Regions from separate parts of the Homo sapiens genome. Here region 2 is linked to region 1. The links come from fine-mapping of genetic effects on gene expression. A gene starts in region 1. The other region holds a variant in brackets. All regions are shown on one strand. Distances are between the middles of the regions. Region 1 holds the start of ARPC1A (actin related protein 2/3 complex subunit 1A). Region 2 overlaps ATP5MF-PTCD1 (ATP5MF-PTCD1 readthrough).

What was found. PIP is the estimated chance that this variant, and not a neighbour inherited with it, causes the effect.
Region 2: its variant is the best candidate, but not a certain one, in a credible set for the expression of ARPC1A in lung (TOPMed, PIP 0.60).

The regions. Positions count from the first base shown.
Region 1 is chr7:99,320,938-99,331,734 of GRCh38, reverse strand. ARPC1A (actin related protein 2/3 complex subunit 1A) reads right to left here and starts at 5,837. Exons shown (of 10, transcript NM_006409.4): 1 at 5,731-5,837. It overlaps LOC105375421 (a long non-coding RNA gene), which reads left to right and starts at 5,927. Exons shown (of 4, transcript XR_927798.3): 1 at 5,927-6,221. RefSeq lists a silencer at 5,557-5,736 and an enhancer at 5,712-6,271.
Region 2 is chr7:99,419,387-99,430,183 of GRCh38, reverse strand. It overlaps ATP5MF-PTCD1 (ATP5MF-PTCD1 readthrough), which reads left to right. Exons shown (of 9, transcript NM_001198879.2): 5 at 378-596; 6 at 980-1,081; 7 at 4,568-5,389; 8 at 6,227-6,409; 9 at 10,035-10,797. The coding sequence ends at 10,217. PTCD1 (pentatricopeptide repeat domain 1) reads left to right here. Exons shown (of 8, transcript NM_015545.4): 4 at 378-596; 5 at 980-1,081; 6 at 4,568-5,389; 7 at 6,227-6,409; 8 at 10,035-10,797. The coding sequence ends at 10,217. BUD31 (BUD31 spliceosome associated protein) reads right to left here. Exons shown (of 6, transcript NM_003910.4): 6 at 10,568-10,793. The coding sequence ends at 10,743. Among named protein-coding and RNA genes, the nearest start is that of PTCD1, 14 kb to the left of the region's middle. RefSeq lists enhancers at 1-330, 6,687-7,188. The variant A/G (reference allele first, on the strand shown) is at 5,932.

The DNA of each region.
Region 1 (10,797 bases):
GTTGGCCAGGCTGGTCTTGAACACCTGGCCTCAAGTGACCCGCCCTCCTCAGCCTCCCAAAGTGCTGAGATTACAGGTGTGAGCCACTGTGCCTGGCCCATAATCCACATTTTAAAAAATGGGCAGAAAAGATGTATTTTGTATAACAGGGAAAATTACAATTTAAACTAGATATTACATATGGAATTATTTTCATTTTCTTAGGTGTGATAACGGTATTGCCATTAGATAGGAGAATGTCCTAGCTCTTAGGAGACAAAGATAATGATGAAGTGTTCAGGGATGAAGTATCATGATGTCTTCTGTAACTTCTTTTCTTTTTTTGGGTGGGGGGCAGGGGAGATAGGGTCTTGCTCTCTCACCCAGGTTTGGAGGGCAGTGGTGCAATCTATGCTCACTGCAGCCTCCGTCTTCTGGCCTCAAGTGATCCTCCCACCTCAGCCTCCTGAGTAGCTGTGGCTACAAGCATGCACCACCAAGCCCAGGTAATTTTTGTAGAGATGGGGTTTCACCATGTTGCCCAGGCTGCTCTGACTGGGCTCAAGTGATCCACCTGCCTCAGCCTCCCAAAGTGCTGGGATTACAGGCATGAGTCACCATGCCCAGCCACTGTAACTTATTTTCAATAGTTCAGGACAGAAAATATATAGAATGTGAATGTGGCAAAATGCTAACTGGTGAATCTAGGCAAAGAGTATGTAGGCGTTTGTGATAATACTTTTTAAACTTTTAATTGTAACTAAATGAAAAGCAGGAATCTGCAAAACATTAAATTAAAAATTCTCTATTTTATAGGTACCCAAATCTAGATACACTTGAAGAAGCAACCATTAACTGAAATGGGAACATTTTTCAAAAAGCAGCCAGCCTTCCTCTACCCCCAACTTTATCATTTCCAGGAGGCACCCTCACAATAAACTCAAGTTTCAACACACGTAAGTATGTGTCATGTTAACCTTGGGTGGAGGCTGAAATGTGAGATATGAATTCTGATGCAAGCAGGAAATGAATGGAAGGGCCACTAGAAGGTTGTAAAGTGAACAATGAAAGTTCAGCTGACAAAGCAGAAATCAGTCTCAGAAAGCAGAAGCAGCACCTCTGCTAATTGTAAAGGAACCCAGGCCAGGCATGGTGGCTCAAGCCTGTAATCCCAGCACTTTGGGAGGCCGAGGTGGGCGGATCACCTGAGGTCGGGAGTTCGAGACCAGCCTGGCCAACATGGCGAAACCCTATCTCTACTAAAAATACAAAAATCAGACGGGCATGGTGGCAGGCACCTGTAATTCCAGCTACTCAGGAGGCTGAGGCACAAGAATCTCTTGAACATGGGAGGCGGAGGTTGCAGTGAGCCAAGATGGTGCCACTGCACTGCAGCCTAGGTGACAGAGTGAGACTCTGTATCAAAACAAAACAAACAAACAAACAAAAAGGGGGGGGGAACCCAAAGGTAAGTGCAACTTTAAATAAAAAACATCTGATACCTTGAACTGGCAGAGAAATGCTAGCATTTCATATTCTATTCTAAGAGTGAAGATAGTTAAGTCATTACTTTTTTCTTTTATACAGTCGAGAAAGCAAACTACAACTAACAAAGAAAAAGCTTAGGAATTGGCAATTTAAAAAAATTTTAAATGCATTCAAATGAGAATGTTTAATTTGTTTTTTTTTTTTACAAGAACTTCCAGATGCTCACTGCATGCTTCTCTCTTTATCTCTGATATCAGATGCTCACTCCAAATTGTTCCATCACAACAGATTTTAGTAACAGCTACTCAAAATAACATGCTGTTATAACTCCTTAATTAAAAGCGCTTTAGTTCAAAAGCCACATTTGATAAGCTTATTTGTTAACTAAAAATAAAATCGGTCTGCAAATCAGAAATTTGATGTGAATATCTACGTGCCATAAAAGTACATGGTTCATGTCCAGTTGAAAAGTACAGCTGCAGACAAAAGGCTTTCTCATGTTCAACTCAGTGTTTTATAAGCAATGTAGCAAAGACTTCAAAAGAGGTGGCCATTTACACAACAGTGTAATTACTTCTAAAATTGCATTTCTAATTTTGCCATATCATTCAAGTTCCATATTTGGACATACACTTAAGACCTGTACTTCTTTTATAATCAGGTGGCTATTTTAAGTCTGCAGGCCAAGACAACACTCATGTTTGTCAAATTTAGAATGCACCTAGCAAACACCACTTGCATTCATGAAACCCAGTGAATGCAGAAGAAATTCCTAATAGCTTGAATTATGTACCAAGAAAGGGTACCTTCTGTCATAGGGTGATAATTATAATTTCTAAACTATGGTTAATGTTTAAGTGAAATCTGAAAAGCTTTGTCTTAATAGAGCTAGAGAGGGAGAAAAGGGGACAAATAAAAATGCCAGGAACTCCTCATCCCTTTTCTTTATTTTCTTTTTTTTTTTTTTGAGACGGAGTCTCGCTCTGTCGCCCAGGCTGGAGTACAGTGGCACGATCTCGGCTCACTGCAAACTCTGCCTCCCGGGTTCACGCCATTCTCCTGCCTCAGCCTCCCGAGTAGCTGGGACTACAGGGGCCCGCCACCACACCCGGCCAATTTTTTTGTATTTTTAGTAGAGATGGGGTTTCACCGTGTTAGCCAGGATGGTCTCGATATCCTGACCTCGTGATCCGCCTGCCTCGGCCTCCCAAAGTGCTGGGATTACAGGCGTGAGCCACCGCGCCCTGCCCCTCATCCCTTTTCTTTTCCTCCCTCCCTCCCCCCTCATCCCTTTTCTCTCTCTCTGAGTTTTTTTCTCAGACAAGGTCTTGCTCTGTCACCCAGGCTGGACTGCAGTGGTGTGATCTCAGTTCACTGCAACCTCGGCTTCCCAGGGTCAAGCCATCCTCCCACTTTAGCCTCCTGAGTAGCTGGGACCACAGGCATGCATCACTATGCCCTGCTAATTTTTTAGTTTTTTGTAAAGACAGGGGTCTCCCTATGTTGTCCAGGCTGGTCTCAAACTCCTGGGCTCAAGTGATCTGCCCACTTCAGCCTCCCAAAGTGTTAAGATTGCAAGCATGAGCCACCATGCCCGGCCCCCACCCCTTTTCTTTATCTATCACTGAGTACAGAGTCATTCTGATGTATGGCTAGCCATGGGCTCTGAAGCCGAGGCTGGGTTTGAACCCTGGCTTTTGACACACACTAGCTATGAAACCCTGGGCAAGTCACTTGATATCTCTAAATCTCATTTTTTTCTTCTGTAAAGTGGATATACCACTGAGATCACAAGGAGAATTAAATGAGACATGTGAAAGCAAGTAGTACAGAGCCTAGCCTGAAATACATGCCAGCAGGTTCCCTTTCTCCCTTTGACCCAAGGCTTTTCTATTTTTTAAATGGAGTTTTGCTCTTGTTGCCTAGGCTGGAGTGAAATGGTGTGATCTCAGCTCACCGCAACCTCCGTCTCCCGGGTTCAAGCGATTCTCCAGCCTCAGCCTCCTGAGTAGCTGGGATTACAGGCACGTGCCACCATGCCTGGCTAATTTTGTATTTTTAGTAGAGACGGGGTTTCTCCATGTTGGTCAGGCTGGTCTCAAACTCCTGACCTTGGTGATCCACCCGCCTCAGCCTCTCAAAGTGTTGGGATTACAGGCGTGAGCCACTGCACCTGGCCAACTCAAGGCTTTTAAACCAACCATAGAACCCACCAGTTAGTTTCCTCTGAGCTTGGAAACGTTGACATATGCTATAAATTCTTGGCCCTACTCCTTTGGAGCTTGAAAATGCCCACAAAAGTGGGCATTTCTGTCCCCTGTTTAGGGTCAGTTTTCAAGACCGTGATTCACCTAGTTCCTAATCACTCTCATTAGCCAATCTAGCAACATCAAGTACTCCAACAAGGTCACCACACCCTCCTCAACATTCAGACAGGCTCCAGTCCAGGCACCAGCCTCACCAGCAGACCATTTTAAACTTCTTTATATAGGATTTGTTTCAGCATTGGATGAGACAACTAGATCAAAGTATCACCACTCCGCGTCCAAAATAGGAGTTTTCCGAAATGGTCCCTTCCTTTAACTGTGATTAACAGATGAACTCCAGAAGATCTCTGAATACTTTGTGGGAGAAAATAGCCATATAAGCTGGGTGTGGTGTCTCACACCCAAAATCCCAGCACTTTGGGAGGTCGAGGTGGGAGGATAGCTTGAGCTTAGGAGCTCCAGACCAGCTTGGGCCACATATGGAGACCCTGTCTTTACAAAAAATACAAAAAAAAAAAAAAAATTAGCCAGGCGCAGTGGCTCATGCCTGTAGTCACAGCTACTCGGGAGGCTGAGGCAGGAGAATCGCTTGAACCCAGGAGGTGGAGGTTGCAGTGAGCCAAGATCACACCACTGCACTCCAGTCTGGGTGACAGAGTGAGACTCTATCTCCAAAAATAAGTAAATAAAAATAAATGAAAATTAGCCCAGTGTGGTGGCACACGCCTGTAGTCCCAGCTACTCAGGAGGCTGAGGTGGGAGGATCTGTTAAGCCCAGGAGGTCGAGGCTGCAGGAAAAAAAAAAAAAAGGAAGACAACAACCACAGTTACCCACTCCCTAACAGGACAAAAACACCTTCCTGACTGATGCCCCTCCTCTGTTTTTAGATACCTGAAAACCCAGGCCCTATGTGAAACCACAAGACTAGATAAAATTGAGGAGAGAGGGCAGAACTAAGATAATCTCGGCAATTTAAGCTACGAGTTGACATAGACAGAAGGTTCCAAAGCTGCAGGAGAACAGATGGCTTTATAATCAAAGATTCTAAGCTATAACTGATTAAGTGCCTATCATGTTCCCAGCAGTGTTGTAAATACCGGGATGGGGCTAGAAACATAAATAAGGCTGACACCATTCTGGTCTTCAAGTCTGGAGGGTTGGTGTTTGGGGAGAGTGGAGGAGATAGAAAAGGAAAGGAAGACGGATATGCATAGAATGCCCAGAAGCAGTAATAATAGCTAATATTTATTGATCACCTACTCTCGGCCAGGAACTATTCTAAGCAATTTATGCAAATAAGCTCACTTGATTCTTAGCAAAACGGTAAGAATCTTTTTATTGCAGATGAGGAAACAGGCGCAGAGAAGCATCTTCCCAGGATCACTCAACAAAGTGGTGGTGCCAGGACTGGCATAAAAGATTCCACTAAATGAATAAGAGCGCCGAGAAGGGTGCAATTTTGACTTGGGGGAAGGCGGTACTCATGCAGGGAAATCTTAAAAGAACTCGGGAGAAGGTTTTTCTCGAGATCGAGAAGGTTCCCCATTAACCGAAGGATTGAGGGCTGCCCTAGAGAGCAGGCAAACATCCTATGGGCGCCTACTGTATGCAGGGATCGACTCTAGACACTAAAGAGATGAATAGTCCCGCGGGTCGCTCGATTACGGGAGATCCTCCTACTTGACACAATTTTAGAGACGGTGACAAATGCCCCCAGCAGAGGTGCAAGTAGGACCCTGGGGGCGCAGAAGGGGCCGTTAATTCGGGCATCGGAGGCGGCTAGGAGCTCGAACATCCTGAGAAAAGCTGCAGGGGATCCACGGAGAAAGGGGATCCCCGCCCCCTCAGGAGGCCCCGGCAGGGAGACCCGGCCGCGCCTCAGCCTCGGGGCCCCGCGGCCTGAGCCCCCGTCTCACTGCCCCCGCGGCAAGTCCGGCGCCAGGCCTGGACAAGAGAGGCCGACAGGGTGAGACGCTCGCCCCTGCTGGCCGTTACCTGGGATCGGGGGAGTCCGGACGGGCTCGGAGCGGAGGATTCGCGGACTCTGGGCAGTCGACGCGAACAGGCTCCGTCGGGCGCGGGCGGAGGACGGAAGCCCAGAGGGAGCGGCTGACAGATCCCGGAAGTGGACACGGCGCCTGCGCGTTGCGACCGCGCGGACGGTCCGCGCATGCGCACAGCTCGGGCGCGCAGTCCGGGGTTAGGCAGGCTGCAGTGGAGGAGGGTACGCCGTTCCATTGGCGTGGTACTGTCGGCGGCCCTTCAGAGGAGATGCTGCCCCACGGAACGCCTGGCAAGTGCTGGCGAAGCGGCATGGGCGTCCCACTCCGTTCCTCAACCAATTTCCTCACAATCGCGAGCCGAAGTGTGGCGCTTTGGCAGTTTCGCAAGGTCTTTTGTCAGGAGATGAGTTACTGAGGATTGGGGGTCTTTGGAGCTCTTGGACCTGAAGAACGATTAAGTTTTTCTCCCTTCAGAGAGCCAAGGTCAGAGCCAGTCTACCTCAGCGCTGCTCCCTGCAGGGAGCCTCCGCCCCCGCCGTGCTCCCTCTGTGGAAAGCCCCTGAAGCCCCCCAGGAACTTTCTCGACCCTTCCTGGGACAGAATCCCCTGCTCCCAAGCAGTTCCCTGCTCCCAAGATGGCGCAGCAGGGATAAAAGGGTTGGGGGAACTTGGCAAGGCCCCCAATTCACAGAGGACAGAGCCTGCCCCGCAGATGCAGCCTCCAAGAAATGCCCTGATCCCCACCTGCAATCAGGCTGCTGCCCTTGAACCCTAGAAATTCTGGAGCATCCCCAGCCCCCACAGATGGGGCTAATCGAGAGCTTTTCTTTTTTCTTTTTTTTTAGACAGGTTCTCAACCTGTAGCCCAGGCTGGAGTGCAGTGGCGCGATCATAGCTAACTGCAGCCTGGAACCCCTGGGCTCAAGCGATCCTCCCGCCTCAGCCCCCCGTGGAGCTGGGACTACAAGTGCACACCACCACGCCTGGCTAATTTTTATTTTTTGGTAGAGACAGGGTCTTGCTGTGTTGCTTAGGCTGGTCTTGAACTCCTGGGCTCAAGCGATCGTCCCTCTTTGGCCTCTCAAAGCCCTCAGATTACAGGTGTGAGCCACTGTGCCTGGCTAATTTTTATATTTTTTGTAAAGATGAGGTTTTCCTATGTTGTCCAGGCTGGTCTTGAACCCCTGGGCTCAAGCAATCCTCTAGCCTCTGCTTCCCAAAGCGATGTGAGCTCCCCCCCGCCGCCGCCCAGCGCCATGCCAGGCCAACCAAGGGCTTGTCTCCTTCCCTTTGGTATTGTAAGGTGAGGTTTATGTAGGTATACTTGTCAAACTCTCAATTTCAGACCCGCTGTGATCTTTTTGAGACGGAGCCTTTCTCTGTCGCCCAAGCTGGAGTGCAGTGGCGCGATCTCGGCTCACTGTAACCTCCGCCTCCCGGGTTCAAGCGATTCTCCTGCCTCAGCCTCCCGAGTAGCTGGGACTACAGCTGCGCGCCACCATGCCCGGCTAATTTTTGTATTTTTAGTATAGACGGGGTTTTGCAATGTTGGCGACGCTGGTGTCGAACTCCTGACTTCAGGTGATCCCGCCTGCCTCAGCCTCCCAAAGTGCTAGGGTTACAGGCGTGAGCCACCATGCCCTGCCAGACCCGCTATGTTCTTTGGAGTTAGTGCAGAGTTCCCCAACTCCTTGGCTGCTGACGGGTGTTGGTCTGTTGCCTGTTAGGAACCCATTGGCACATGAGGTGAGCAGGGCGAGCCAACGAAGTGTCATCTGTATTTACAGCCGCTCCCCATCTCTGGCATTACGGCCTGAGCTCTGCCTCCTGTCCAATCAGTGGGGGCATTAGAGTCTCATAGGAAAGTGAACCCTATTGTGAACTGCATATGCGAGGGATCTAGGTTGCATGCTCATTATGAGAATCTAATGCCTGATGATCTAAAACCACCCCACCCCTCTCCCCTAGCCCCTGCCCCCTTTTCCGTGGAAAAATTGTCTTCCATGAAACCGGTCACTGCTGCCAAAAAGATTGGGGACCACTGAGTTAGTGAATCCAGCTGTTCATGGAACATCGCTTCACTGAAATTCTGATTTTAACTCTGACCTGTGGTTACAAAGTCTTTGGTCATAGGGTAATCGAGCAGATAGTGTAGAAAGATCATTGTAAATTCATTACCCCCTCCAAGAGACAGCTTGGGAAAGGGAGGACAGCAGGTGTGGAAAGCAGGGATTCCTTGTGTGTCTGCAAGTTACTTGAACCAATTCCCAAGTATGTAGAGGAGTTTATGAAGATCCCACCTCTTTACAAGGAACACTTACTGCTTTGATGGAATTTATAATCTGGGTAGATGAGAGTAACACATGCAAATTAATACCAGACTTTATGATAAGTGACAAGAAATGTTAGCCCCAGAAAAAAATAACAGATATTTACTATTATTAATCTCTGGTTCTGATTTGAAATAGTATTTTGCAATTTAGCCTAACCAAAGCTTACCATTTGATGCATTTCACTTTTTTTTTTTTTTTTTGAGATGGAGTCTCACTCTGTCACCCAGGCTGGAGTGCAATAGTGCGATCTTGGCTCACTGCAACCTCTGCCTCCCAGGTTCAAGCGATTCTCCTGCCTCAGGCTCCTGAGTAGCTGGGATTACAGGCACACGCCACCATGCACAGCTGATTTTTGTATTTTTAGTAGAGACAAGGTTTCACCATGTTGGTCAGGCTCGTCTCGAACTCCTGACCTCATGATCCTCCCGCCTCGGCCTCCCAAAGTGCTGGGATTACAGGCGTGAGCCACCACACCCGGCCCACTTCATATTTTATGAGTCATTCCAGATGGTAGAATCTTAGCTCTAAGCGGGGCTCTTCTGTAATTGAAGAAAAAGAAAAATTTTGACACTTGAGGAATTTTTTTGTTTTGTTTTGTTATGCGACAGTGTCTGGCTCTGTCACCGAGGCTGGAGTGCAGTGGCGTGATCTCAGCTCACTGCAACCTCCACCTCCCTGGTTCAACCGTTTCTCATGCCTCAGCCTCCTGAGTAGCTGGGATTACAGGCGCGTGCCACCACACCTAGCTAATTATTGTATTTTTAGTAAAGATGGGATTTTGCCATGTTGGCCAGGCTGGTTTTGAACTCTTGGCCTCAAGTGATCCACACACCTTGGCCTCCTAAAGTGCTGGGATTACAGGCATGAGCCACCAAGCCTGGCCTGAAACCTGAGGGTTTTGATACAAGGCAGGGAGGGTTGGGGGGCTGGCCACCTGCTCTGGCCTTACTGGTTATACCATCGTGCCCTGCTATAAAAGCCAACCATCAGGGTTCTAAGGAGGGTGAGTTACTTTTAATGTTTGTTTTTAAGGCATGTGTGATGTAGTATCCAAAATGCAGACTCAACCTTTTAAAAGATTAGTATCATGGGTGAGGGGCAGCTGTCTGGGCTGGTGGTACGTGGGTAAAAGGATTTACCAAGACAGTTGTAGATAAAGGCAGATTTGTTAGAGAAAGTAGGAAGGTACGAGAAGGCAACAGGCAGAATCAGCAGAAGAGCAGCCAACTGCAAAGAAAGGCTTGCTGGGGATTTTATGGAATAGTGTTTATGCTGTAATTGTTGGGCGCAGGAAGATTGTGAGTTATTTGCAGAGGAGGGCTGTGTGTCTGGACCATAAAGAATGGCAGACTTGTAGTTTACCTGCTTCTTTTTGCTTCCCCCTGCTCCCACCATCCTGACTCCTTTTCCCTAATTAGACTTAACAATTAGTGCCAGGGAAGGTGGTACTTAGAAGTGGGCAATGGAAGAGAGGGAGGGGTTGGACACTACCGTGGGCTGATTTTGTTTGCTTTGCTGATTGGATTGGAATTGGAATTGAGTTGAATTAGAATTTGGTCAAGATTCAAGGCATCAAATATTTAATAAATACTCACCAAGTGCCAACTATTGTGTTAATAAGAGTAGAGTAAGATCCTTCTGTTCTCAAGTAACTTAGAGATTAGGATATGACCAGTCCACAAAATATTTTATCTTATTTTTAGACCAGGGATGCTGCTAAAATAATTTTAAATAAAAGGAAATGCACAATACCTTGAATCTGGAAGGTCCTGGTTAACATTCGTTGAATGAAAGTGCAAATGAATGAAAGAAAACAATTTGGATGTCAAAGGACACAGAGGTTACTGCTAGTTGAGAATGGAAGGTGGGGCTTATATAGACACATCAGGAACATAATCCATCATAGTTTAGGAAGGTTACATGTTTGTAAAGGCGTAAGGATTTCCTTCTCAGGAGAGCTTGATTTAATAACTGGAATGTGGAGTTGGAGAGTAAGAAGATTGTTTCTTGCTTGTTGTGCCAACAGCTGAAATGGTGAACAATTACTGCAGATCTTCCAATAATGCCTGCCATCTAGTCACCAAAAAAACTGTTGGAAATACTGAATCAATGCCAATAAAAGCTATAAACAAACAAAAGGACAAAACTATTAATGCATATTGTGTGTTATTAGTTAACAATAATCCTTATGCTTTAGATATTGTCCTAATTGCTGGGTATGTTCCCAGTGAGGAAAACTTCCTATGGAAAGGATTTTGTAGAGTTCAATACAGGTGAACTGAAAAGTGCATGTGGATTTTTCCACTGCTCACTCAGTTCATTTCCATAGGACAGAGATGGGACCAGTCACGGGATGTCTAGGGGCACAGGGTAGTCTCAGGTGGTGTGTATAAATAGCATATTATCGCAAATACCATACTTGTAAGACAATCATACAAGCAGACTTGGGAATTCCCTGTGTTACTTACCTAATTTAATAAGTGAAATCTGTAACCCATGAACCTGTAAATCTCCTCAAGGCCAGAGCCACTTAGACATTTTGTTACCGACACATTTTTCCATGTTATGCAAGCTTAGATTATTTTAATAAAATCATTCTGGAGCCATCTAGCACCCTCATCCACCAGTCATTTCATTAGCATAGAGAGACACACTTATCACTCCAGAGATTGCAAAGGTCTTAAAAGCTCCTGTGTGAGGAACTGGGAGCTAAGACCAAATATTAT
Region 2 (10,797 bases), 98 kb before region 1:
GAGGAAGTGCTAACTTGCCCGGGAGCCCTCAGGTAGTAAGCACTACAGGCCCTTTCCCCTTGACGGGGTGGCCTGAAGGTGGGGACATCAGGAAGACCTTGCTGCCAGGACCCCAGGCCTGGAGTGGGCTGACAAGTGCCCAGGGCAGGGTAGCTCCTGTTTGGTACATCTGGGTGTGTGGGCTCAGTTTTCAGAGTCCCTTCAATGTGTCTGAGTTTGGAGAGCTGGGCTCTGATGTGTCCATGGCTCTGCCTTAGAGCCTGGCCTGGTGGATGCAGTGACGGGGTCCTCTCCAGCCTCAGCCTCCTCTGGGGCAGCTGCTCACCTGTGCGTCCAGCTGATCCCGGGCCACCACTGAGCTTCTTCCATCTCCACAGATGAAAAAGCGGGACCTGGAGCCCTCGGACGCCACCTACACGGCCCTGTTCAACGTCTGTGCCGAGTCCCCCTGGAAGGACTCAGCTCTACAGAGCGCCCTGAAGCTCCGGCAGCAGCTGCAGGCCAAAAACTTCGAGCTCAACTTGAAAACATACCACGCGCTGCTGAAGATGGCTGCCAAGTGCGCAGACCTTAGGATGTGCCTCGATGTGTTCAAGGTGGGGCTTCCCCTGCCGTCCTGCTCCCCTTCATGGGGCTGGTCCCACGTGTCAGGGGCAGGGCTGTGGTGTCTGTCTCTCCTCATGTAGGAAGGCTTAGGGAGGATGAGACAGCCGGTATTGGGCCCTGGGGTTCACAGATGGATCTGATGAGACCTTACTGGAGATTGTGTATGCCACCGTGTGCTGTGTCCTGCTTTGTGCACTCGAGGGAAGGCTTCCTAGAGACAGGGTCTTGCTATGTTGCCCAGGCTGGTCACAAAACTCCTGGCCTCAAGTGATCATCCTGCCTTGGCCTCCCAATGTGCCAGGATTACAGACATGAGCTACCATGCCCAGCCTGCTGCAGGTTCTCAGTGGGACGTCTTTGTTCCCTCCCCCAGGAAATCATCCACAAAGGGCACGTGGTCACAGAGGAGACCTTCAGTTTCCTGCTCATGGGCTGCATCCAAGACAAGAAGACAGGCTTCCGGTACGCCCTCCAGGTATGTCCCTCCCACCCCACCTTCCTGCCCTGCTTCCCCGGTGCCAGAGGTGCAAAATGGTGATCCTGTGAGCACCCACGATGGCCCTGTGCTGAGTATTTTTATATCTGTGCTCTTTTCTGAAAACCCAGCAGCCACTGTAGCCTCCATTCTACAGATGGCAGGGAGAGGAGGCCCTTGGAGATGGAATGAGGGTGGCCCCCGCCCCTCCCACCCTGCTTTGCAGTCGGCTTAGCCCCTCTAAACTCACCTTCCTTGAAAGCCTGCCACACACTCACCTGGGGACTTGTTCAACCCTCCCACACCCCCATTAGCACTTCTGCAGGTGCAACCCAGGAGTCATTCATTCATTCATTCATTCATTTATTTTGAGATGGAGTCTCACTCTTGCCCAGGCTGGAGTGAGCGATCTTGGCTCACTGCAACCTCCGCCTCCCAGGTTCACGCGATACTCCTGCCTCAGCCTCCCGAGTAGTTGAGATTACAGGCGCCCGCCACCACGCCCAGCTAATTTTGTATTTTTAGTAGAGACGGGGTTTCACCATGTTGACCAGGCTGGTCTTGAACTCCTGGCCTCATGTGATCTGCCCGCCTGGGCCTCCCAAAGTGCTGGGATTACAGGTGTGAACCACAGCTCCCCGCTGGAGAGCTTTTTTTTTCTTTTTCTTTTTAATGTTTTTAATTTTTTTTTTTTTTTTTTGAGATGGAGTCTTGCTCTGTCGCCCAGGCTGGAGTACAGTGGCATGATCTCGGCTCACTGCAAGCTCCACCTCCTGGGTTCACACCATTCTCCCGTCTCAGCCTCCTGAGTAGCTGGGACTATAGGCGCCCACCACCATGCCCAGCTAATTTTGTTTTTGTATTTTTAGTAGAGACAGAGTTTCACCATGTTAGCCTGGATGGTCTCGCTCTCCTACCTCGTGATCCGGCGCCTTGCTCTCCCAAAATGCTAGTATTACAGGCGTGAGCCACCGCGCCCGGCCAATTTTTTTTTTTTTTTTATTGATCATTCTTGGGTGTTTCTTGCAGAGGGAGATTTGGCAGGGTCATAGGACAATAGTGGAGGGAAGGTCAGCAGATAAACAAGTGAACAAAGGTCTCTGGTTTTCCTAGGCAGACGACCCTGCGGCCTTCTGCAGTGTTTGTGCCCCTGGGTACTTGAGATTAGGGAGTGGTGATGACTCTTAAGGAGCATGCTGCCTTCAAGCATCTGTTTAACAAAGCACATCTTGCACCACCCTTAATCCATTTAACCCTGAGTGGACACAGCACATGTTTCAGAGAGCACAGGGTTGGGGGTAAGGTCACAGATCAACAGGATCCCAAGGCAGAAGAATTTTTCTTAGTACAGAACAAAATGAAAAGTCTCCCATGTCTACTTCTTTCTACACAGACACGGCAACCATCCGATTTCTCAATCTTTTCCCCACCTTTCCCCCCTTTCTATTCCACAAAACCGCCACTGTCATCATGGCCCGTTCTCAATGAGCCGCTGGGCACACCTCCCAGACGGGGTGGTGGCCGGGCAGAGGGGCTCCTCACTTCCCAGCAGGGGCGGCCGGGCAGAGGCGCCGCTCACCTCCCGGACGGGGCGGCTGGCTGGGCGGGGGGCTGACCCCCCCCACCTCCCTCCCGGACGGGGCGGCTGGCCTGGCAGAGGGGCTCCTCACTTCCCAGTAGGGGCGGCCGGGCAGAGGCGCCCCTCACCTCCCGGACGGGGCGGCTGGCCGGGCGGGGGGCTGACCCCCCACCTCCCTCCCGGACGGGGCGGCTGGCCGGGCGGGGGGCTGACCCCCCCACCTCCCTCCTGGACGGGGTGCTAGCCGGGCAGAGGGGCTCCTCACTTCCCAGTAGGGGCAGCCGGGCAGAGGTGCCCCTCACCTCCCGGACGGGGCGGCTGGCCGGGCAGGGGGCTGACCACCCCCACCTCCCTCCCGGACGGGGCGGCTGGCCGGGTGGGGGGCTGACCCCCACCTCCCTCCCGGACGGGGCGGCTGGCCTGGCGGGGGCTGACCCCCACCTCCCTCCCGGACGGGGTGGCTGCCGGGCGGAGACGCTCCTCACTTCCCAGACAGGGTGACTCCCGGGCGGAGGGGCTCCTCACTTCTCAGACGGGGCGGCTGCCAGGCGGAGGGGCTCCTCACTTCTCAGATGGGGCGGTTGCCAGGCAGAGGGTCTCCTCATTTCTCAGACGGGGCGGCCGGGCAGAGACGCTCCTCACCTCCCAGACGGGGTCGCGGCCGGGCAGAGGCGCTCCTCACATCCCAGACGGGGCGGCGGGGCAGAGGCGCTCCCCACATCTCAGACGATGGGCGGCCGGGCAGAGATGCTCCTCACTTCCTAGATGGGATGGCGGCCGGGAAGAGGCGCTCCTCACTTCCTAGATGGGATGGCGGCTGGGCAGAGACGCTCCTCACTTTCCAGACTGGGCAGCCAGGCAGAGGGGCTCCTCACATCCCAGACGATGGGCGGCCAGGCAGAGACGCTCCTCACTTCCCAGACGGGGTGGCGGCCGTCTTGGCACTTTGGGAGGCCAAGGCAGGCGGCTGGGAGGTGGAGGTTGTAGCGAGCCGAGATCACGCCACTGCACTCCAGCCTGGGCACCATTGAGCACTGAGTGAACGAGACTCCGTCTGCAATCCCGGCACCTCGGGAGGCCGAGGTTGGTGGATCACTCGCGGTTAGGAGCTGGAGACCAGCCTGGCCAACACAGCGAAACCCCGTCTCCACCAAAATAATACAAAAACCAGTCAGGCGTGGTGGCGCGCGCCTGCAATCGCAGGTACTCGGCAGGCTGAGGCAGGAGAATCAGGCAGGGAGGTTGCAGTGAGCCGAGATGGCAGCAGTTACAGTCCAGCTTCAGCTGGGCATCAGAGGGAGACTGTGGAAAGAGGGAGAGGGAGACCGTGGGGAGAGGGAGAGGGAGACCGTGGGGAGAGGGAGAGGGAGAGGGAGAGGGAGACCATGGGGAGAGGGAGGGGGAGAGGGAGAGGGAGAGGGAGAGGCCCGGCCAATTTTTTAAATGTTTTACAGTTGTTTTGAGACACTCTCGCTCTGTCACCCAGGCTGGAGTGCTGTGGCATGATCACGGCTCACTGCAACCTCGATCTCTGGGTTCAAGTGATTCTCCCACTTCAGCCTCCTGAGTAGCTGGGACTGTGGGCATGCAATACCACACCCAATAATTTTTGTATTTTTAGTAGAGATGGGGTTTCACCATGTTGGTCGGGCTGGTCTCGAACTCCTGATCTCAAGGAGTCTGCCTGCCTTAGCTTCCTAAAGTGTTGGGATTACAGGCGTGAGCCACCGCGCCTGGCGTATTTTTTTGAGGCAGGGTCTTGCTATGTTGCCCGGTCTTGTCTCGAACTCCTGATCTCAAGGGATCCTCCCATCTAAAACTCCCAAGGTGCTGGGATTCCAGGCGTGAGCCCTGCGCCCAGCTGCTGAATGGGAGCACCCAGCTGACGTTTGTCTCTTCCGTGGCAGGTGTGGCGGCTGATGCTGAGTCTAGGGCTACAGCCGAGCCGGGACAGCTACAACCTGCTGTTGGTGGCAGCTCGGGACTGTGGCCTAGGGGACCCCCAGGTGGCCTCAGAGCTGCTTCTGAAGCCCAGGGAGGAGGCGACTGTGCTTCAGCCCCCAGTGAGCAGGCAGCGGCCAAGGAGGACAGCCCAGGCCAAGGCAGGCAACCTCATGTCAGCCATGCTGCATGTGGAGGCCCTGGAGAGGCAGCTGTTTCTGGAACCTTCTCAGGCACTTGGGCCTCCAGAGCCTCCGGAAGCCAGAGTGCCCGGCAAGGCCCAACCAGAGGTGGATACTAAGGCAGAGCCCAGCCACACAGCAGCCCTCACCGCAGTGGCCCTGAAGCCACCTCCCGTGGAGCTGGAAGTCAACCTCCTGACCCCCGGGGCCGTTCCCCCTACAGTGGTCTCCTTTGGAACGGTGACCACCCCAGCTGACCGGCTGGCCTTGATAGGGGGCCTGGAGGGCTTCCTGAGCAAGATGGCAGAGCACAGGCAGCAGCCCGACATCAGGACCCTCACGCTACTGGCCGAGGTGGTGGAGTCCGGGAGTCCTGCAGAGTCCTTGCTGCTGGCCCTCCTGGATGAGCACCAGGTAGAGGCCGACCTGACATTCTTTAACACGCTGGTGAGAAAGAAGAGCAAGCTGGGAGACCTGGAGGGGGCCAAGGCGCTGTTGCCGGTCCTGGCAAAGAGGGGCCTCGTCCCCAACCTGCAGACATTCTGCAACCTGGCCATCGGGTGCCACAGGCCGAAGGACGGTCTACAGCTTCTCACAGACATGAAGGTGAGTGGACTCGGGCCTGGGCAGGACACCCATGGTGCTCAGGAGCACTCTGCAGCTCAGGAGGAAAGTTTGAGGGGTCTGCAGACCCCCCACCTGGAGAGGATGAACTGTGCATGGGGCAAAGAGAGTGGGGTCAATGACCTTCTGGTCTTTGGTCCCATTTTGGGGGAAGCAGACCCCAGTGAGTGCTTCAGGGCTGGGCGTAGAGACACACGGATGTTCCCATCCGGAAGAAGGTGGCCGTGGGTTGACACAGGGCTGGGCACAGGCCTCGGCCCCAACACTCTAGAGGTATGGCAGGGATTCTCAGAATTCCTGAGGGGCCGTGGGCAGTTTTCAAAGCCCCCGAGGTCTGTGCCTCCCACCTAACCCCCATTGGAAGTGCTGCGTGGATTTCATCCGACCACAGCAGAGGCTGCGTCCTGGGTTGTCGGTGTCCCCAGGTCCATCATCCTCTGGCTGTTTTCCTGGACCCTACCGGGCTCACCCAGCCAAGGCTTGCACTTTTCTAGGCCAACCACCACCTGGTGACCGTGCGTCAC[A/G]GGAAGCCCACCCCAGGGAGCAAGGAGGTGGTGTCTCCCACATCATTTTCTGCCTGAGTCAGTCGGTGTCTGAGAGCAGCACGAGCGTCCTTTTCCGCAGCTTCTTTAGGGCTGAGCAGAGGGGCTGGGCTTGGCTTTCCTGCTGGAGAGGGATATTCAGCACATTGTTGCTGCCAAGTTTGCCTTGCTGGCCCTGGCCGCTGGTCCCGGGAGCCAGCTTGATTGACAGAGGGTGGGAGCTGCTGGGTCCCAATGGCTGCCATCATCTTGATTCTACGATGTCCCTGTGTTCTAGAAGTCCCAGGTGACCCCCAACACTCACATCTACAGTGCCCTCATCAACGCGGCCATCAGGAAGCTGAACTACACCTATCTCATCAGCATCTTGAAGGACATGAAGCAGAACAGGGTCCCGGTGAACGAAGTGGTCATCCGCCAGCTGGAGTTTGCAGCCCAGTACCCTCCCACCTTTGACCGGGTGTGTGCCCCAAGCTCAAAAGCTCATCAGCTCCTTCACCATTGCTACCCCCTCCCCCCACCACCCAACCCCGGTTCTGGCCCTTGGGATTGTGTTGCCATGCTTGAAACTGTCCAGCAGCTTCCCTTAGGAGCAGTACCCAAGTCTGTAGACCACAGCCTGCGAGTCCCTGTCTGCGTGGCTCATCTCATGTCTCAGCCTTGCGTTTGCTTTCTCTGTCTGTCCCAGTGGCCTTCTGTCAGTTCGCAGAGGCCACCAACCTCTTGCCTGCTTCGGGATTGGTGTTCCCGCTGCCTCAGGTGGCACCCACTTTTCCTGGAGGTCTCTGCTTAAGTGGCCCTCAGACATGCCCAGCTGGCTGCCGCTCTGACCTGGGATGAAAGTCTCCCCTCCCCCTTCCCACTCTGTTCCTTTATGCCGTGTCCTACAGTCTTGGATCATGTGCTCATGGGCAGCCCTGGCCTTCCCTGTATCAGGCTTCTGGAGGCAGAGGCTGTCTGCTGTGCTCATCTGGGTCCCCAGCACCTGCACGTTGCTGGGTACTCCAAACAGGTTGTCGCTTGCTCAGGGACTGGGCAGGCAGTGAAGTGGTGTCATTGTCTGGGGTGAATACCTGAGATTTGTTGTGAGCCAAGATCGCGCCACTGCACTCCAGCCTGGGCGATAGATGGAGACTTGGTCTCAAAAAAAAAAAAAAGAGGTTAAGAGCTGAAGTTTAATAGGCGAAAGAAAGAAGAGCTCTCGCCCGGTGTGGTGGTGAAAAAAAAAAAAAGAGAAGAGCTCTCTCCTTGCAGAGAGAGGTGCCAGAGAAGTGGGTTGCCACTTCCATAGTGTAATGCAGAGGTTTTGTAGATGAGCTTGGGGAGGTGGTGTCTGATTTACAGAGGACGCAAAAGATTAGTTGGACCAGGTGTGCCATTTACATAGCATGTATAAAAGCTGGTGCCCCACCCTAACCTTTTATTATGCAGACAGGTGGCCATCGCCATGTTGCCTGGTTCTTTACTGTACACATGGCAACAAAGAAGGGAAGATGGGGCCCCCACGTTGAACATATCTGGCTCCCAGGTAGCCCTTTTCTGTTGGCACAGCCGCCAGCATTTACCCCTGCAAGCTTCCAGTTTGCTTATCTATGTCTGCAGCTCGATTTTTCAGGCTGCTCTTTGTTAGAAAAGAAATTATTTGGGGGCTGCTTTTTATTAAAAGGGAAATTTCGCCAAGGACTCTGTTGCCCTTATTATCTGCCTAAATAATTTCTTTCAACCTCCTGTATCAGCAGGAGCAGGGCAGAGTCATGGAATCTGCTTTGTCACGGCCACAGCCTCTCCCTGCTGTTCTGAGGCTATCAGGCTCTGGGGTTTGGCTTTTGGGTCCATCGAATCACACTCTGTGCTGAGCATCTCCGGAGCATCGAGAGCCACTATGGCTTGAAGCACAGCCCGGATGGGGCGGAAACAAGTAAATGGGCAGGGACACACACAGCTAGAGGGTGCGGGGTCAGGAACGCCGTGCAGGTGTCACGCCTGAATGCCATTTTGAGGGCTTCCTACAAATAGGTGGGACAGCAATGGAAATTGTGTCTGGCTGAAGGCATAGCTGGGCATTTTTGAACTGTGTCTGTGCTTTGAACTGTTGGTTGCAAGCCTTTTCTCATTGATTCCAGGGTTTTTTATATATTCTGGGTACTGGTTTTTTGTTGATCACATGTTGTGCATATCTTCCTAGTGGATTGTCTCTTCCCTCTGGCGTAGGGCTCACTAGGGGTTCAACTCGACAGTCACAAGACTATCATAGACCTAAAGCATATCATATTTAAGTCACAGACAGATGTCCCTGACTTAAAGATGATTCTACACAGGATTTTTCAACTTTGCAATGGTTTTATCAGGATGTAACTCTGTAAGGATCGACTTTGTGCGGGGTTAGTTTCTACTGAATGTATATCACTTTTGCATAATTATAAAGTCAGGACCCTCTGCTGTGTTGCCAGCAATAGATGCATTTTCCTTTTGTTTTTTATGAGATGGAGTCTCACTCTGTCACCCAGGCTGGAGTGCAGTGATGCGATCTGGCCTCACTGCAACCTCTGCCGCCCAGGTTCAAGTGATTTTCCTGCCTCAGCCTCCCGAGTTGCTGGGATTACAGGAGCCTGCCACCACACCAGGCTAATTTTTGTGGTTTTTTTTTTTTTTTTAGTAGAGACGGGGTTTCACCATCTTGGCCAGGCTGGTCTTGAACTCCCGACCTCGTGATCCACCCACCCCAGCCTCCCAAAGTGCTGGGATTATAGTTGTGAGCCCCCATGCCGTGCCGCATTTTCTTTTTTCTTTTTTTTTTTTTTTTTTAAAGAGACGGGAATCACTCTGTTGCCCAGGCTGGAGTGCAGTGGCACGATTATGGCTCACTGTAGCCTTGACCTCCCAGGCTTAAGAAGTCCTCCCACCTTAGCCACCTGAGGAGCTGGGACTACAGGCATGTACCACTGTACCCAGCTAATCTTTTAGATAGGGTTTCACTATATTGCCCAAACTGGTCTGGAACTCCTGAGCTCATGTAATCCGCCTGCCTCGGCTTCCCAAAGCACTGGGATTATAGGAGTGAGCCAGCACACACAGCCAGATTGATTTTTGATTTACGATGGGTTTTTGGGGGGCGGAACCCTGCTGTCAGGAGCATCTGTACTCATATTCCCTCATGATGGTGGACTTGTTTATATTCGTGATTCTGTTGAGTTTTGCTTTCTGTGCTTTCAGGCTCTATCCGGCACCTTAAGGTTTAGAATTGTCCAGTCTTTTGAGTCAAACCTTTTTTTGTTTTTGTTTTTTTTTGAGATGGAGTCTTGCTCTGTCGCCCAGGCTGGAGTGCAATGGCGTGATCTCAGCTCACTGCAACCTCTGCCTCCCGGGTTCAAGCCATTCTCCTGCCTTAACCTCCCAGGTAGCTGGGGCTACAGGCATGCACCGCCACATCCAGTATTTTTAGTAGAGATGGAGTTTCACCATGCTGGCCAGGCTGGTCTCGAACTCCTGACCTCAAGTGATCTGCCCACCTCGGCCTCTCAAAGTGCTGGGATTACAGACGTGAGCCACCGCACCCGGCCAAACCTTTTGTCATTGTGTGGTAGTAGCTGTATGTTGGATAGCACTTTTTGGCTTTTTTGGTATATTCCCCTACCAGCTCTCAGTTTGTGTCTGGTGTGTCTTTGCTTTTTTCCCCATATCTCATGGAGCCTATCTTGGCAGTGTTGAGATAATGGTCAGAGGGAGGTGGCTTTGATGGGGAGGGGCTCGGCAGGCTGTGGAGGCAGAGCTGGTGGGACCCAGTGATTCTGGCTTGGGGGCCTGGGGTGGCAACTGCGGATGGAGGAGCACAGTGGTGCCTATTTGGGAAGAACGCCATTGGGCAGATGGCTCTGGGCCTGCCCCAGGGTACCCAGCGGGGACCTGTTTCTCTGAAGTAAGCTAGTCCCATAGTGCGTGTTCACAGCTTTTCTGCCCTGTCCTCTGCAGCCACCTGGAAGGGAAAATGGCAGCCACCAGCTTCCCTGAGGCCTGAGCCAGCTGCCGAGGTTTGGGATTAGCTGTAGGTAACAGGAGTGATTCTAGCCTCACTTTTCTAATTCTAGTACCAAGGGAAGAACACCTACCTGGAGAAGATTGACGGCTTCCGAGCCTATTACAAGCAGTGGCTGACAGTGATGCCCGCAGAGGAAACCCCGCACCCCTGGCAGAAGTTCCGGACCAAGCCCCAGGGGGACCAGGACACCGGCAAGGAGGCTGATGACGGATGTGCCCTTGGGGGCAGGTGATGGGAGCACAGCTGGAACAATGTGCTCGGCCCCCAGTGCTCTGTGGGAGCCCCAGGACAAGTGAGCTGGTGTCACCTCCTGCCTGGGGGAAGAGCCAGGCCCTGAGGAACAGCCGCAGCGTGTCACAGGTGTTGGTGAGGACACACACTAGGCCCAAGGTGCCTGTGCTCCCAGCAGGTCCAAGTGCAGCTCCAGCCACCTTTGCGTGTCACCTTCACGGGACTTCCAGCTCCAGCTACCTTTGTGTGTCACCTCACACACCACAAGGGGGCTGGGGCATCTGGTCCCTGGGGCCTGGGCCGCCCCGCCGGGTTCCATAGGCCGATGCTCTGAAAGAAGAGACGTGGGGCTCGAGAGATTTAAAGATTTTATTTTTACAAATCACAGCTGATAGACAGCGAAGCCTTCCCCATAGAGACCGTGCTCCAACTCGGGCCTGGGGCACTGCTCGCTGCTCCCAGGAAGGGGGTGGCGTGACAGGCAGGAACCTGCGAAGTCCAGAGTCCAGGGTGGAGCGCGCCAGCCTCAGCCAGAGCAGCCACGACAGCCACAGTGTGTGCACTCGATGATGCGGCCCTGC